Homo sapiens: one gene and its partner. The protein of the gene in region 1 purifies or fractionates together with the protein of each later gene. This does not show direct contact. Each region holds a gene or a part of one and is shown on either strand. Other genes may lie near its edges.

The links.
Region 2: the proteins of NSMCE1 (region 1) and SLF2 purify together in Homo sapiens (affinity purification with mass spectrometry; 3 studies listed by BioGRID and IntAct, with this or other methods). This does not show direct contact.

What each region holds. Positions count from the first base shown.
Region 1 is NC_000016.10:27,224,415-27,231,113, reverse strand, and holds the end of NSMCE1 (non-structural maintenance of chromosomes element 1 homolog), read left to right. Parts: intron 1-4,277; coding exon 4,278-4,394; intron 4,395-5,267; coding exon 5,268-5,388; intron 5,389-5,877; coding exon 5,878-5,957; 3' UTR 5,958-6,120; downstream 6,121-6,699. UniProt on the Homo sapiens protein: RING-type zinc finger-containing E3 ubiquitin ligase that assembles with melanoma antigen protein (MAGE) to catalyze the direct transfer of ubiquitin from E2 ubiquitin-conjugating enzyme to a specific substrate.
Region 2 is NC_000010.11:100,957,805-100,965,224, reverse strand, and holds the end of SLF2 (SMC5-SMC6 complex localization factor protein 2), read right to left. Parts: intron 5,798-7,420; coding exon 5,729-5,797; coding exon of another isoform or gene 5,654-5,728; exon of another isoform or gene 5,637-5,653; intron 3,349-5,636; coding exon 3,313-3,348; 3' UTR 91-3,312; downstream 1-90. UniProt on the Homo sapiens protein: Plays a role in the DNA damage response (DDR) pathway by regulating postreplication repair of UV-damaged DNA and genomic stability maintenance.

The DNA.
Region 1 (6,699 bases):
GTTATCCCAGACCCTAGAGCCGAGTGCCCCAACATCCCAGTACACAACACTTTGCACCCTGCTTTGCACCCAAGAGCACCATGCCTAGCACATGCTGCCACCATTGTGCATGGCTTGCAGGGCGTGCCCCCAGCTTTATGGTTTGACTTGCCCTTTGTCTGCCCTTGGTGTCTGGAGAGGGCGGTGGTGGATAGGAGAGGCCCCGCCCTGGAGTCTGTGGCGGTGAGCTGTGGCTGCAGGCGCTTGTACTCTGTGCCTTTCTCAGTTCGGTGGCAGTGCTGGCACCACCTTCTGCAGGGCGCCTCTGAGCTCGAGGGAGGGTGGACAGAGGATCCGGGAGCTGCCACCTGCAGGAGCGCTGCAGAAGTAGCAGGGGGCCCTCAGCACTGGCGCTGGGCAGTAGCCCTAGAGAGGCTTCTTGTTGACTGCCTGGCCTGCTGGGGCCCTCAGGAGGACGAAGGAACGAAGCTAATGTGGCAGGGGCTGTGTGGTGAGACTCCTCCAGGTTCCTCCGCTGCCTGTGGTGAGCAGCTTCTCGTTGCGGAGACTGTTTCCTCATCTGCAGGATGGGGACATTGCCAGCTCCAGGTGTTTTCTGTGAGGGTCCAGTGCTCTCTGACCTACATGGCCTGGTAAGGGTTGCCTTGAGGTCTGCGGCACTCTGGAGGAATCACTGAGAACCGGGGCGGGTGCTCACTTACCCAGGACAGGTCTTCCTAGGGCAGCACCTCGATCAGAGAGACCACATGTCAGTGTCTGATCCTTGGCCTCTCAGACACAGGGCTTCCCACAGAAATAGCCAGGGGCCCACTGACAAGGCCCTTCCAGGTGGGTATATCACCCCAAGGACACGTCACTCCTGGACAGCCAGTCCTGTGTGAGACTGGCCCGGCATGGAGGTGCTGAGGCAGCTGTCCGTCCAGGAGAAGGCCCAGGGGTGGTAGGTGGTTGGGGTCAGCGGGGAGGCCTCTGAGAGCAAGCGCGGCTCATGGGAGCTGGGCGTCTGCTGATCGGCGCACCTCCATACACCCCAGGACTGCTCCCTACACGAGGTCCTGACTTCCAAGTGTTGTGGCGAGGCGCCTGGGAGATCACCTGGGCTGTCGTCGTCTTTGAGGGCTAGGGCATCCCTCCTGCCCCTCCCCTGATGGGCCCTCAGAGGACTGAGTGGGTCATGAATGGTGAGCCTTGGGTGCAGTTTCAGGCACATAGCAGGTGTTCAGTAAATGCAGCTTGGCTGGGTGCAGTGGCTCAAACCTGTAATTCCAGCATTTTGGGAGGCCAAGGCGGGTAGATCACTTGAAGTCAGGAGTTTGAGACCAGCCTGGCCGATATGGTGAAACCCTGTCTCTACTAAAAATATAAAAAAGTTAGCTGGGTGTGGTGGCGGGCATCTGTAATCCCAGGTACTCGGGAAGCTGAGGCAGAAGAATCGCTTGAACCCTGGAAGCAGAGGTTGCAGTGAGCTGAGATCGTGCCATTGCATGATCTAGCCTGGGCAACAAGAGCGAAACTCTGTCTCAAATAAATAAATAAAAAATAAATGCAGCTCCTGCCTCAGTCTGAGCTTGAACTTGCTTAGTGTCAGGCATTCCTTTGGGATCAGTGCAAGGTCTACTTCATCTTCCCGTGGGTGTTTATCACAGGCCTGCCAAGTGCTGGGCCCCACAGCAGGTGCTGCGGACACAGGAGTGAGCACAGCCAGAGCTGGTGGCCGCTCCCATGGGGCCATGGTCTGGAGGGGGAGCCCGAGATCAGTGAGACGGTCATCTCACTGCAGTCCTGGTACAGATGGAAAGGAAACATGGCTTTATGACAGCTGTCCCAGAGGAACCGGCCCTCAGCTGCTGAGGAAGTGACACTTGAGCTGAAGGCTGTGTGGGAGTTGCCTGGAGCCTGGGGTGGGAGGATCATCAGCCCGGCAGTGGCCCTGTGGCCAGCAGGTGCACTCAAGAAGCTAAGGCCAGGGCCATCTGAGCACAAAGATTGCGAGGCGAGCAGACGGAGGGCAGCCCGGGAGATACGCGTATTAGGGGCTTGGCTCTTGGACCTAAGGGTGGTGGGAAGCCCTGGGGTGGGGGTGAGTTGGGAGTGACAGGGCCAGGCTTGTTCGGTAGCGAGTGCGTTGCTGGAGGAGAGTGGGCTCAGAGAGCAGCAGGAGCAGGGGAGGGTGGAAGAGGGTGGAGGCCGGGGAGGTGGGTTGCCATGATGGATCTGTAGGGGAGGGTGGAAGAGGGCGGTGGCCGGGGATGTGGGGTACCATGATGCATCTGGAGGGGAGGGCGGAAGAGGGCGGTGGTTGGGGGTGTGGGGTGCCATGATGGATCTGGAGGGGAGGGTGGAAGAGGGTGAGGGCTGGAGAGGTGGAGTACCATGATGGATCTGGAGGGGAGGGTGGAAGAGGGTGGTGGCTGGGGATGTGGGGTGCTGTGATGGATCTGGAGGGGAGGGTGGAAGAGGGTGGGGGCTGGAGAGGTGGGGTACCATGATGGATCTGGAGGGGAGGGTGGAAGAGGGTGGTGGCTGGGGATGTGGGGTGCTGTGATGGATCTGGAGGGGAGGGTGGAAGAGGGTGGGGGCCAAGGAGGTGGGGTGCCGTGATGGATCTGGAGGGGAGGCTGGAAGAGGGCGGTGGCCAGGGAGGTGGGGTGCCATGATGGATTTGGGAGCTTTGGGGGAAGGTAACAGCCATAGGACTGAGGACCGAGGACAGCCTGGGGGCTGGTCACATCCTCCCATTGCCCACAGCACTTGGATGACACAAAGCCCCTGTGCACCAGCAACAGCTGCGGTGCAGGGCACAAGCACCTGGTGCCCCGGCCTCCCTCCACTGTTCCCGCAGCGGCTGTCCATGCCCCAACCCCACGCTTCTGCCCTGCCTTCCTTCCTGTGCTCACCCAGCTCCTCTACTGGTGTTCCAGAGCGAACGCACTGTGAGCCCAGATTACGCAAGCACACCCCTCCACATTGCACTGTGGGGATGAAGGTGGGAATGGGGTGGGGGGCTCTACCTGTCAGAAACGGGAGTGGGCTGGGTGCGGTGACTCACGCCTGCAATCCCAGCACTTTGGAAGGCCGAGGTGGGCGGATCACCTGAGGTCGGGAGTTCAAGACCAGCCTGGCTAACATGGTGAAACCCTGTCTCTACTAAAAATACAAAATTAGCCAGGCGTGGTGGCGCATGCCTGTAATCCCAGCTACTCAGGAGGCTGAGGCAGGAGAATTGCTTGAACCCGGGATGCGGAAGTTGCATTGAGCCAAGATTGTGCCATTGCATTCCACCCTGGGCAACAAGAGCAAAACTCCATCTCAAAAAAAAAAAAAAAAAAAGAAAAGAAAAGAAACGGGAGTGACAGCTCTTGCTTGTAAAAATTAAAAATTAGAAAATAACAGAAAAGGCAGTTGAGCACTCGGGTGACTTGCAGGCGTCAGTGACGTCATCTCCTGGTGTGGTTCATATCCGATGCATGAGCTGACTGTGGAGAAACTGGAATCAGCCTGCATGGGTCCATGTCCTGGGTCCCGTGTCATTTGCCTGCCTTGGGTCTCCCTCAGTGCTGCCTTTCTCCTGTGACCTGGCAGTAGGGTCGGCCTGGGGAGCTGCATTGTTCTTGTGCTTCCGGGCTCTCCCAGGGATTTCAGGATGCATGATGGGTGGACCGCACCCTGGCATGGGAACCAGGAGGCCTGGCTTCCACTGGAGGCTCCACTGCCCACAGTGTGATGGGGCCTGTCTGCCCTCTCCAGACTCCTTCCAGCTCCATCTGTAAAGTGATGTGGCTGGAAGTGATCTCTGAGGGTCCCTACTGCAGTTGGAGGCAGAAGTGCTGGGAGGCAGAAGTGCTGGGAGGCACCAGGGATGCTGCTTTTTGGGAGTGGGATGGGTGGCGGATGGCAGCAGTGGGTGTTTGGGTTTGCACCCTGGGGAGACTGACCCCCTTGTGGGCCTCAGCGTCCTCATCTGCAGGAGGGCTGTGACTGCCTCCCTCGAGGCTGCCGTGCAGACAGAGAAGTCACGTCTGAAGGCACAGCAGATGCTGAGAAAAGGCGGGTGTCAGGGAGCCACGCCTCCATGTCTTTAGGGTCTTTGCCTCAGTTTCCCTTGCCGAGGCTCTGCCAGGGGGATGTGGCTGATGCCCGTTGGCTGGGGTTGGTGAAAAGCTGCGTAGACCCTTGTGTCTTCCTGAGCACTGGGCTGTGGGATCACAGAGGGAAGAGAGGTGGTGAATGGGGAGAGGGCCTGGCTGAGGGTGGCCACCTCCTGTGTGTCCCTGCAGAAGGAAGGGGAGTTCACCCTGCACGGCCGGGCCATCCTGGAGATGGAGCAATACATCCGGGAGACGTACCCCGACGCGGTGAAGATCTGCAATATCTGTCACAGCCTCCTCATCCAGGTACCCGCAGGGCAGGGCACGGGAGCTCATCACTGGGCCCTCGGCTCCCGGGGCTCTGTACAGGTACTTCCCGGAATCCTGGCTCTGGGCCCAGCCCTCCTGCACTGCTGGCGCATCCTCCCACAAGAGCTGGCGGAGGCCATCTCCCAGGACGTGTCAGGACGCCTCCCTGCTGTGCCCCGCAGGGACGCACTGCCGCCCTCCTCCCTGGTTCTGCTGTTGGGGTCCAAGGGCCCTCGCTTACTTTATTTTTCTCAGGAAGGCTGAGTGTTCTGTGCAACCTGCATCATCTTGGTAGTTTTGTAGTGAGTGTCTCTTGTCGATTGCTGCTTTCTGGAGTGGTCTTAACACTGGTTTGCAGGGCTTTGCAACCGCTGAACCAGCGTGGACATTGATGTGTCTTTCAGTTTCTATCGTTTTGCAGCTGTAGCTGTTTGTAATTGCAATTGCTCTTACGGGCCTCGTACACCTGTATCCTTGGGCACCTGGTGATTATTTCCTTGGGCGGAGTTTCTGGGACAAAGTGCACTTTTTTTTTGAAAGCTTTTGATTCACATTAGCAAATAAGCTTCTGAAAAGCTGTGGCTGTCCACACGCCACCTGCAGGATCTGAGTGCAGGAGTTTGGGAGCCCTCGGCTTCTGTCACTGCGTTCATGTGTTCAGAATTGTTTAGTAAAACCCACCGCAACAAGCAGCAAGCAAACAAAAGACTCCACTGCACTAAGGCGTTTGGGATTATTTTCAATATTAATCTGGGGCCCAGAAGATAACACGATGCCACCTGCTGCCCATTTCCCTTGTGGCTTCCCCGGAGGTTTGCAGAACATGGAGGTGTGCACCAGCTCCGCCGTCATTGGCCTTTCCTGTTTCAGGGTCAAAGCTGCGAAACCTGTGGGATCAGGATGCACTTACCCTGCGTGGCCAAGTACTTCCAGTCGAATGCTGAACCGCGCTGCCCCCACTGCAACGACTACTGGCCCCACGAGATCCCAAGTGCGTGGGCCCTGAGGAGCTCATGGGAGGGGCTGGGCCAGCAGGACGTGGGGCCTGGTGCCAGGGAAGCCCTTGGAGACAGGGCCCTGAAGGGCTCCAGGGTGTGTGGGGGTCCGTGTTAGCAGCTTGAATCCTAGAAGAAGCCACTGCAGGAAGTAAAGGCTGAGCTACGTGCACCGCTCCAGAGGACTTTCTAGAACCCAGCTGAAATTCCAACGTGTATGAGCATTTTGTCTAGACAAGGCTCTCTCTCTGGCAGCCCTCTCAGGAGGGGGACGTGAAAGCTATGTCCACAGCTCCCTCAGTTTGTTCCTCTCTGAACTGGGGCTAACTCTGCCTTCCTCACGGGCTGGGGAGGGTTAGCAGTGAAGGATGGTGTAGACCTAGGACAGTCCTTGGCACAGGAGACGTAGCTGCTGGCTCCAGCTGGTGCCCCTGTGCTGCCAGCCCCTCCATTCACTGTGTCTTTCCTGCCTTTTCTGTCTACAGAAGTCTTCGACCCTGAGAAGGAGAGGGAGTCTGGTGTCTTGAAATCGAACAAAAAGTCCCTGCGGTCCAGGCAGCATTAGCCATCGTGCCCTGCTGAGGGGCTGGCTGCCTTGAGTGGCCTGATCGCCACAGCCCTTCTTGGAAGAAAGGCGTCCGTGTTTCAGGTTCCACGCGAGTCACCTCTTTCGTCTTAATGTTCACCGTCCACAGCTTTGGAATAAACCATCCTGGGAAGTTGCTGCAGCCCGTCTGTGTTCTCGAGCCCGTGTGTGAGGCTCCGTGTTGGGGCCTTGCCTTTCCTGGAGTTCGGTCGTCACTCAGACCCCCTGGGTTTGGGCTCCAGCAGGTGAAGCCAGCAAGAGCCCCCAGCAATGACTCAGAACAGCTCACTGTCCTTGCCCAGGGCAGCCTTGCCTCCAGTCCCAGCGGTGGCCAGCTGTCCCAGCAGGACTGGGCTGGCCCGAACCTGGATGTGTGAGCCTTGGCCTCCCCAGCTCCCCAGTCTGGACTCTCCCCTGGCCCAAGGTGCCACTGGCCTGAATGGGCTGAGGCTGGGCGTTTGGGCGGGATGCGTGCTCTCCCTCCCTGGACGCTCTGCTCCCTGTGGGTGCCCGGCAGCCCTGCCATCCAGCTGTCCCAGCCGGGACTGGGAGTCAGCCTCAGTGCTTCCTCTCCCTGACCCTCCTGCATCCCATTGTCACCAGATCCTGTCCAGCCCAGCTGCCAATAGCCCTCTAGCCCTGCCACTGCTGCCTCAGGCTGAGCTCCAGCCCCGGCCCACACTCTGCCTCTGTGCTCCCTGCAGAAGACCCCTGGATGCCC
Region 2 (7,420 bases), on another chromosome or scaffold:
AAAGCCAGGGGACTGGGGTGGGCTGAGGGAACAGGGCATTCCAGATAACTTAGCCTCCCCAACTCCCAAACAAATATTACCAAACACATGTTCAAACTGAGAAAAAGCAGTTTTAATAGCACACACACACACACATTCATAGGACTTTAACAAGATGTAGTATAAAATCTTTAAAAAAAAAAAAAAGGAAAGAAAAAAATCTGTATTTACTTCCTAAGAGCTGGTGGATTAACTGGCTGACAGGACTGCCCAGGAAAAACAAATGCACAGATAATGAGGTGCGCCGACACTGTTCATGAGTAAGGAATAACCATGGATCATGCTAACTGCTCTACGTGCCCCGCCGCCTGGACCCTACTGTTGCCTCCTTAGCGACAAACCACCACAGTCATCCCCTAATTCTCCAACTCAGTAGCTTGTTTAATGGGCTACCTCTTAAAATTTTCATTTTTAATTTAAAAATTACTCTTGGCTTAAAGACGCCACACATTATTACTGGCCAGTCCCCACCAATTATATTTGTTTTGATAAAAATAAAAATGCAAATACTCCAACTAAGCCTGGATGATAACACGCCATTTTGTATCTTTTACATTTGAGGAGATTTTTGTGAAGCTGAAAGCAAGCTACTATTTGCGCTTGAAAGCAGAAACAAAATGCAAACCTTCCAAAAGGTGACAAAGGCACCACTGCCATCAGGAGATAGAAAATGTACAAATGCTGTTACTTTACGGCTACATCAATGCATTTTGTGCATGGAGAGCCTCTTAATGTGATAAAACTAGTAGAATTATATTTTCAGTAACAAGAAAAGCAGTTAGAAAAGGCAAACAGTTACACACAAAAGCATAAACACTTACAAGTACCTTAATGTGCAGCTTGCAAGAAGGGTAATAAGTTTGCCATACATATCCATAAAATTAGACAAGGTGATTTTTGGCACAGTAATATTGCCAAACACACCACCACTCAGTGCAAGCTTCGTTTGCCAAGTCCCCAAAGTGGCCTGACATTCTCTGTGCAATGAACATTTCTCCCTCTCTACCATCCCATTCACCGGGCAATAGCAGCAGGAGGGAGACAAAGCATGGGGACTCAAGGGAGAAGTAAAATACTTGATTTGGAAGAAAAACCATGGGCTACTTGTGCTAAAAGAGAGTCACAAAGTTTTCATGAGAACCCAAATGCAAATACTGACTGGACTATGACCTGGAGTCTGAAGACCTCTACCAGAGTCATAAATACAAGGGCCTAAACTGAGGTCTGGCCATTTATTTTAGAGGGACCATGAAGTATTTTTTTTCTAAAGGAGAAATATAATTAAAAATAGAGATTTTTTTCTTATTGGAACTGTTAAATAAAAATGTATCAAAGTGGTTTTAAATTTGATGGACAGTTATCTGTTGAAACTGCAATACAAAAGGGTCATTAAAAAAAAACCTGAATAACCCACTTGTCCCCCCCATCAATGTACACAATTAGAAAATATTTACACACTGTAAATTACAAGCAATATAAGCAGTATTTTATACTTTGAGATTTTGTACACTTTACACAATGCAAAATGAGAAAAATATGAACACGTATAAAATTACACACAAATAATGTATCTACAAAGGATTAAATTACAGAACGAAAGCCCCCATCGTTGGGCAGATAGATGCCAGAGTTTCAAGCTTCTGTCAAATAGAACTCTTTGTATCTATCTCTTTAACCATAAGTGGCATTTTGTAACAATACCCTTGAGAGGTAGTATCAAGATAATAATATTCTTACCAGTAAACAACACAGAATAAAACTTTTGTTGGTCTGACTCTTGGAGCCTCAATCAGTTTAGGTTCTTGGAAACTGGATTTACTTAGTCTTCCCTATAAAATCTCTGACTGCCAATGCTTGATTGACATGAGCTCAAAAGTTACTGATGCTATTTTAAATGATAAATTTAGGACAAAATGCTTTTTACTCCTAAGCCTCAATTTAGAGGTAGAAAGTTATTTTATTTTCTTGCCTCTCAAACCGCAAACATCAAGTCCAGTTTCTGTTCCCCTCCATCATCTTTCCCCCCCACAACTGGAGACACTAGAGCACTCAGGAGAACAGGTCACTCAAGCCAATACTGAAAGAACAACAAAAAAAGTTGGCATTCTTTCAGGAAACAAACCCTCCTAAAAGGGACATCTCGTCAACAAAATAATTTTCTAGTTGGCTAGTAAGAGTTTGTTACTACCCCTGGGCTAAAAACAACGTGTGCACTTCCACTAACCCTCTACCATTTAAACCAAAGGATGGCTCTCCAGTGTTTAAGAATTTACAGCAGCTGTGGTTTTGAAGTGCAACAACTTCAAGATACAAGCGCACACACACACACACACACACACACACATACACAGACACAGTGTCCCAAAGAATTCAGGTGTCTGCCAAAATTATATACTCATGGAAACAAGGTTGTTGGAAACTTGTCCAGATCTTTAGGCTTTTACAATATAGACTTCTGTAATATGGTTACCAAGAGCCAGAATTCTAAGATATAGCCAAGATTCTAAGATTTAACCAGTATTTAAAATACATGCATTTAAAAGAAATCCAGAACAAACAGCATATGAATGTTCTGGCATCAAAACAGGGCCACTACTTTACAGCTTAACCTCTTCCTCTTAAGGGGATCTGACAACATGCCAAACTTTTGTTTCTCAACTGTTTGTTTAGATGTATTTTAAAAACAGATTTATAATCTTGAGTAATGAAGGAAAATGCATGGATTGAAACCTCCCTGTGGTTTATAAAAGTTACAGAAGAGATTTATGCTTTTTATTACTAAACTCAGTTTTAAGCATTCCCTTTGTGTCCGAAAATAACCAAGAGGGAAAATTAAACCCAACTGGAACTTGGTCTTGCTTTCCATGTCCAACTTCTCAAGTTAGTCCAAGCTCTTTTCTTATATATTTCCTGTGATTATCCAAGTGACAAAAATACTATCTAAAAAAGATAACTGGCTTATAATTTAACAAGAGGAGTTAACTGGGGCAGGTTAGACATATGACTATTATTCTGCTTCTACCCCTCCCCTCTTTTAATAAGACTCTGCACTTTTGAAAGGTCAGTTGCCTTAACAATTAAGCAGATCATATTTCATATCTGCTTCAGAAATGGCAATTTCTTCATTACCAGCTTCATACTAGATATTCAAGTGGCACATTTGCTGTACATTTTCTTGGCATTCATTGGATTCTGTAATAATCCTTTCTACTCCTCTATGAAAGGCTCTTATTGAATTTCTCTTGGTTCATATTTTTGCTGCTGCAACTCCTATTAAGAATCTGGTACCCAGAAGTCATGAAGCTGCCCCTAAAAAAGGGAAGGAGAAAAAAGAGGGTAAAGCAAAATTTAATCATATTATGAATTAATCCTTATAAAACTACTAATCATCAGACAATGGGCTTTGATAAGACAAGTAATAAAATCTTTATATTGACTTCTCTGAAAATTTATGGTAATCAGATTCAAATTTCACATTCAGTAGTCAAACAACAAAAAACAGTAAAAAATAAGTGCAGGATGTTTTTCTCACCACTGCACACATGGAGGGGCTTAGTTAAGCAGATTAAATAATGTTAAGCTGATTAGTATAGTTTTGCTATTAAATTATTTTCTGTTTTAATACCACATCAGTACATGACCAGCATTAAAAGAAAATCTATTAAGGTTAGAAACAAATACAAAAACAACAAAACATAAATATAAGATTTCTCAAAGACTTAAAATAGAGAGATTGCTTTATCTACTTAACATTCAGTGTTCCTATTATTTTGATATAAAATATAAGCAACTTCTAGGCCCTGGCTACTCAAAGTTTAGTCCCTGAAGCAGCAGCATTGGCATCAATCTGATAACTTGCTAGAACTACAGAATATCAGCCAGGCGCGGTGGCTCATGCCTGTAATCCCAGCACTCTGGCAGGCCGAGGCGGGCGGATCACGAGGTCAGGAGATCCAGACCATCCTGGCTAACACGGTGAAACCTGTCTCTACTAAAAAATACAAAAAAATTAGCCAGGTGTGGTGGCAGGCGCCTGTAATCCCAGCTACTGAGGAGGCTGAGGCAGGAGAATGGCGTGAACCCAGGAGGCAGAGCTTGCAGTGAGCCGAGATTGCACCACTGCACTCCAGGCTGGGTGACAGAGCAAGACTCCGTCTCAAAAAAAAAAAAAAAAAAAAAAAAAAAAAGAAGTACAGAATATCTCAGTTCTCACTCCAGACCTATGAGTCAGAATCCATATTTCACCAAGTTCCTAGTTGATTCCTATGTACATTAAAATTTGAGAAGCGTCATTTTAGACAATCCTATGCCAGTTACTCTGTAAACAAGCAGGCTGGCACACTTACTAGCAGGTGTTAAAAAAAATGTCCCTCTTAGGCAAAGACTCCTTAGATATAACATCAAAAAAAAGTGTCAAAAATATATACATAATAAATAAAAATAAAGGAAAGGCAACACACAGAATGGAAGAAAATATTTACAAATTATATCTCTAATAAGGGATTTGTATCCAGAACATACAACTCAATAATAAAAAGACAAATAACTATATTCAAAAATAGGCTTTTTGAAATGAAGTATGGGATGAAAAAAATGGGCAAAGGATCTGAATAGACATTTCTGCAAAAAAGCTATACAAATGACCAATAGGCATATGAGAAGATGTTTAACACCATTAATCATTAGGGAAATGCAAACTAAAACCACAATGAGATTCTACTTCCCTACTCCCTACTATGGCTTTAGTAAAAACAAGTGTTGGTGAGAATATGGAGAAATTAGAAACCTCAGACATTCTGGTGGGAATATAAAATGATGCAGTCACTTTGGAAAACAGTCTGGTAGTTTCTTAAAACACTTAACATAGAATTACCATATGGCCCAGCAATTTGACTTCCTTTTCAAATGTTTCATTTGAGAACACATATTCACATAAAAACTTGCATACAAATGTTCATGGAAATATTATTTGTAATAGCCAGAATGTGAAAACAATACAAATGTCTGATAAGTAGATAAATAAATGTGACATATCCATACAGTGGAAAATTATTTGGCAATAGAAGGGATGTACATGCTATAACATGGATTCACTTATTATTATATTAACTGAAAACAGCCAATTACAAAAGATTACATAGTATATCTCATTTACCGATGTCCAGAATAGGGAAATGTATAGGGACAGAAAGTAGATTAGTGTTTGCCTAGGATTTGGGAGGAGTCAGGAGGGGAACCAAGGTAGTAGAGGAAAGGGGAATGAATGACTGCTAATGGGTATGGGATTTCTTTTTGGGGTGATGAAAATGTTCTAAAATTAGACTATGGTGATGTTATTCACTCTGTCAATGTAATAAAAACCACTGTACACGTTAAGTGGGTAAAATCTATGGTATGTGAATTCTATCTCAATAGATCTGTCTTAAAAATGCTCTTAATTGAATAACCTCCATTTGATGCAATGCAATATTTTTAAATGGGCTCAACCACTTCTGGAAATAAATTAATGAATATAAAGCAAACGAAAACTAAAAAAATTACAAACCATGTATTATACTGGCGTTTTCAGTTTATCTTAAGATAACTAGAAGCAAGTGCACTGTTATACCCTATTTTATTTCAAACAGTATGAAGAGTGCCATTCAGCAAAACTATTAAGAATACATGAAATTGTATAACAAAATGACACCTGAGTAGGCCGACAGTTCTGGATTATTTCCTGCCATTTTCCATGTATCCTGGCGACCAAGTCTTTCACCTTAAAAATATCAAAAACAGGAAAAGGGATCAGATTAAAACATTCTCACCTACAATCAGCTTAACACTACACAAAATATCTGACAGCTGCAACAGGCCCACACTCAACAACTCAATTTGATTTCTGTCAACAAAGAGAAAATAAACTACTCATCTTTTGAAGGAGATTTCAAATCATAGAAATTAATAAGACTCCCTTTATCATCATAATCTAAACTATTGAATGCTTATGATTTAATTTTCCTGTTATTGAAGATCATCCCCAAAAACACATTCTCTGCCTTCAAAGGAACTTAACTTTAACTCGCTGGCTTTTGAACAACCAGATAGAGAAGCTGAAGGGTGGTCTGTGTCAACAGGGCCCAAGGCTTTGGCTGTTCTGTGCCTTCCCTTCCCAGCTTCCCTTTGAAAGGATCAAAGCCATAAAAAAAACGTTTATTTGTCCCTCTCCACATTATTAGAAGATCCAAAATTCACTGTTACTCCTCTCCATGCTTGTGCCCAAGTACTACGAATCCCCTTTAAATACCTCGTATTTTCCTACATTTGGAGGTTTAGCAAGTGTCTGTGCACAACTGAAACTGTAACACAAAACCCAAACTCTATCACTCTAGAGATTCTCAATTAGCTATTGAACATAACTGCTTGAGAAACATGTTTTCAACAAGTCAGGAATTTTATAGCAGCTTTAAATTTATAAAGTAAACTACAATCTATGCTTTTTTCTTCATCTACAGTTCAAATTTCTCCAAAACAATCACCAACTTTTCTATAATAGAGGCTTTTGGAGAGGCAGGCAACTCATCTATTTCAGCAGGACCATCCCTTGAAGCAATTTCCACAGACCACTGTGTCGCTTTCCACTTTAAGTAAGAGAAGCACTGGCAACAATCTGTGCCAAGCCCTTGTCTTTAAGAAACATAAAACTTGGGTGGTCCCCTTTTAGCATGGCTGTCAGTAGTAGCCACTACCAAGTTCTACAGGCCAGCAATTCTGGTCAATGAATGCTCAAAAGAATGTGCTTCTGAAACTAGAGTTCTACTCTTGGGGAAAGAGCTATCCCCTACATGTATTTGAAAATCAGAAATCTGATAACTTCATTAGTTGCTTATTTTTGTATTTAACTTAAATTTACTAAAATAAATACATATGTTAAATCTGAATGGGCATTGTTCAAATGACTAACCTTTGCAGCTAATTAATGTAAGATATTAAGTTACAAAGCTGAGGCTTCACATTCAATGACTATCCAAAGACAAGAGGCAAAAAGAATCAGCATTGTATTACATTATCAAAGCTAAAAGATAATCTTGGAATAAAAAAATCTTTAGAAAAAAGTATGTTTATTTTATTTTGTTTTATTTATTATTATTATTTTTTGAGACAGAGTCTTGCTCTGTCGCCCAGGCTGGAGTGCAGTGTCGAGATCTCAGCTCACTGCAAGCTCTGCCTCCTGGGTTCAAGGGATTCTCCTTCCTCAGCCTCCTGAGTAGCTGAGACTACAGGCACGCACCACCACACCTGGCTCATTTTTGTATTTAGAAAAAAGTATTTTAAAAGTGTCTGATTTTATGTTTCAGGAAAAACTGTCAAATCATTCTATTAATACTAACATTATTTTCCT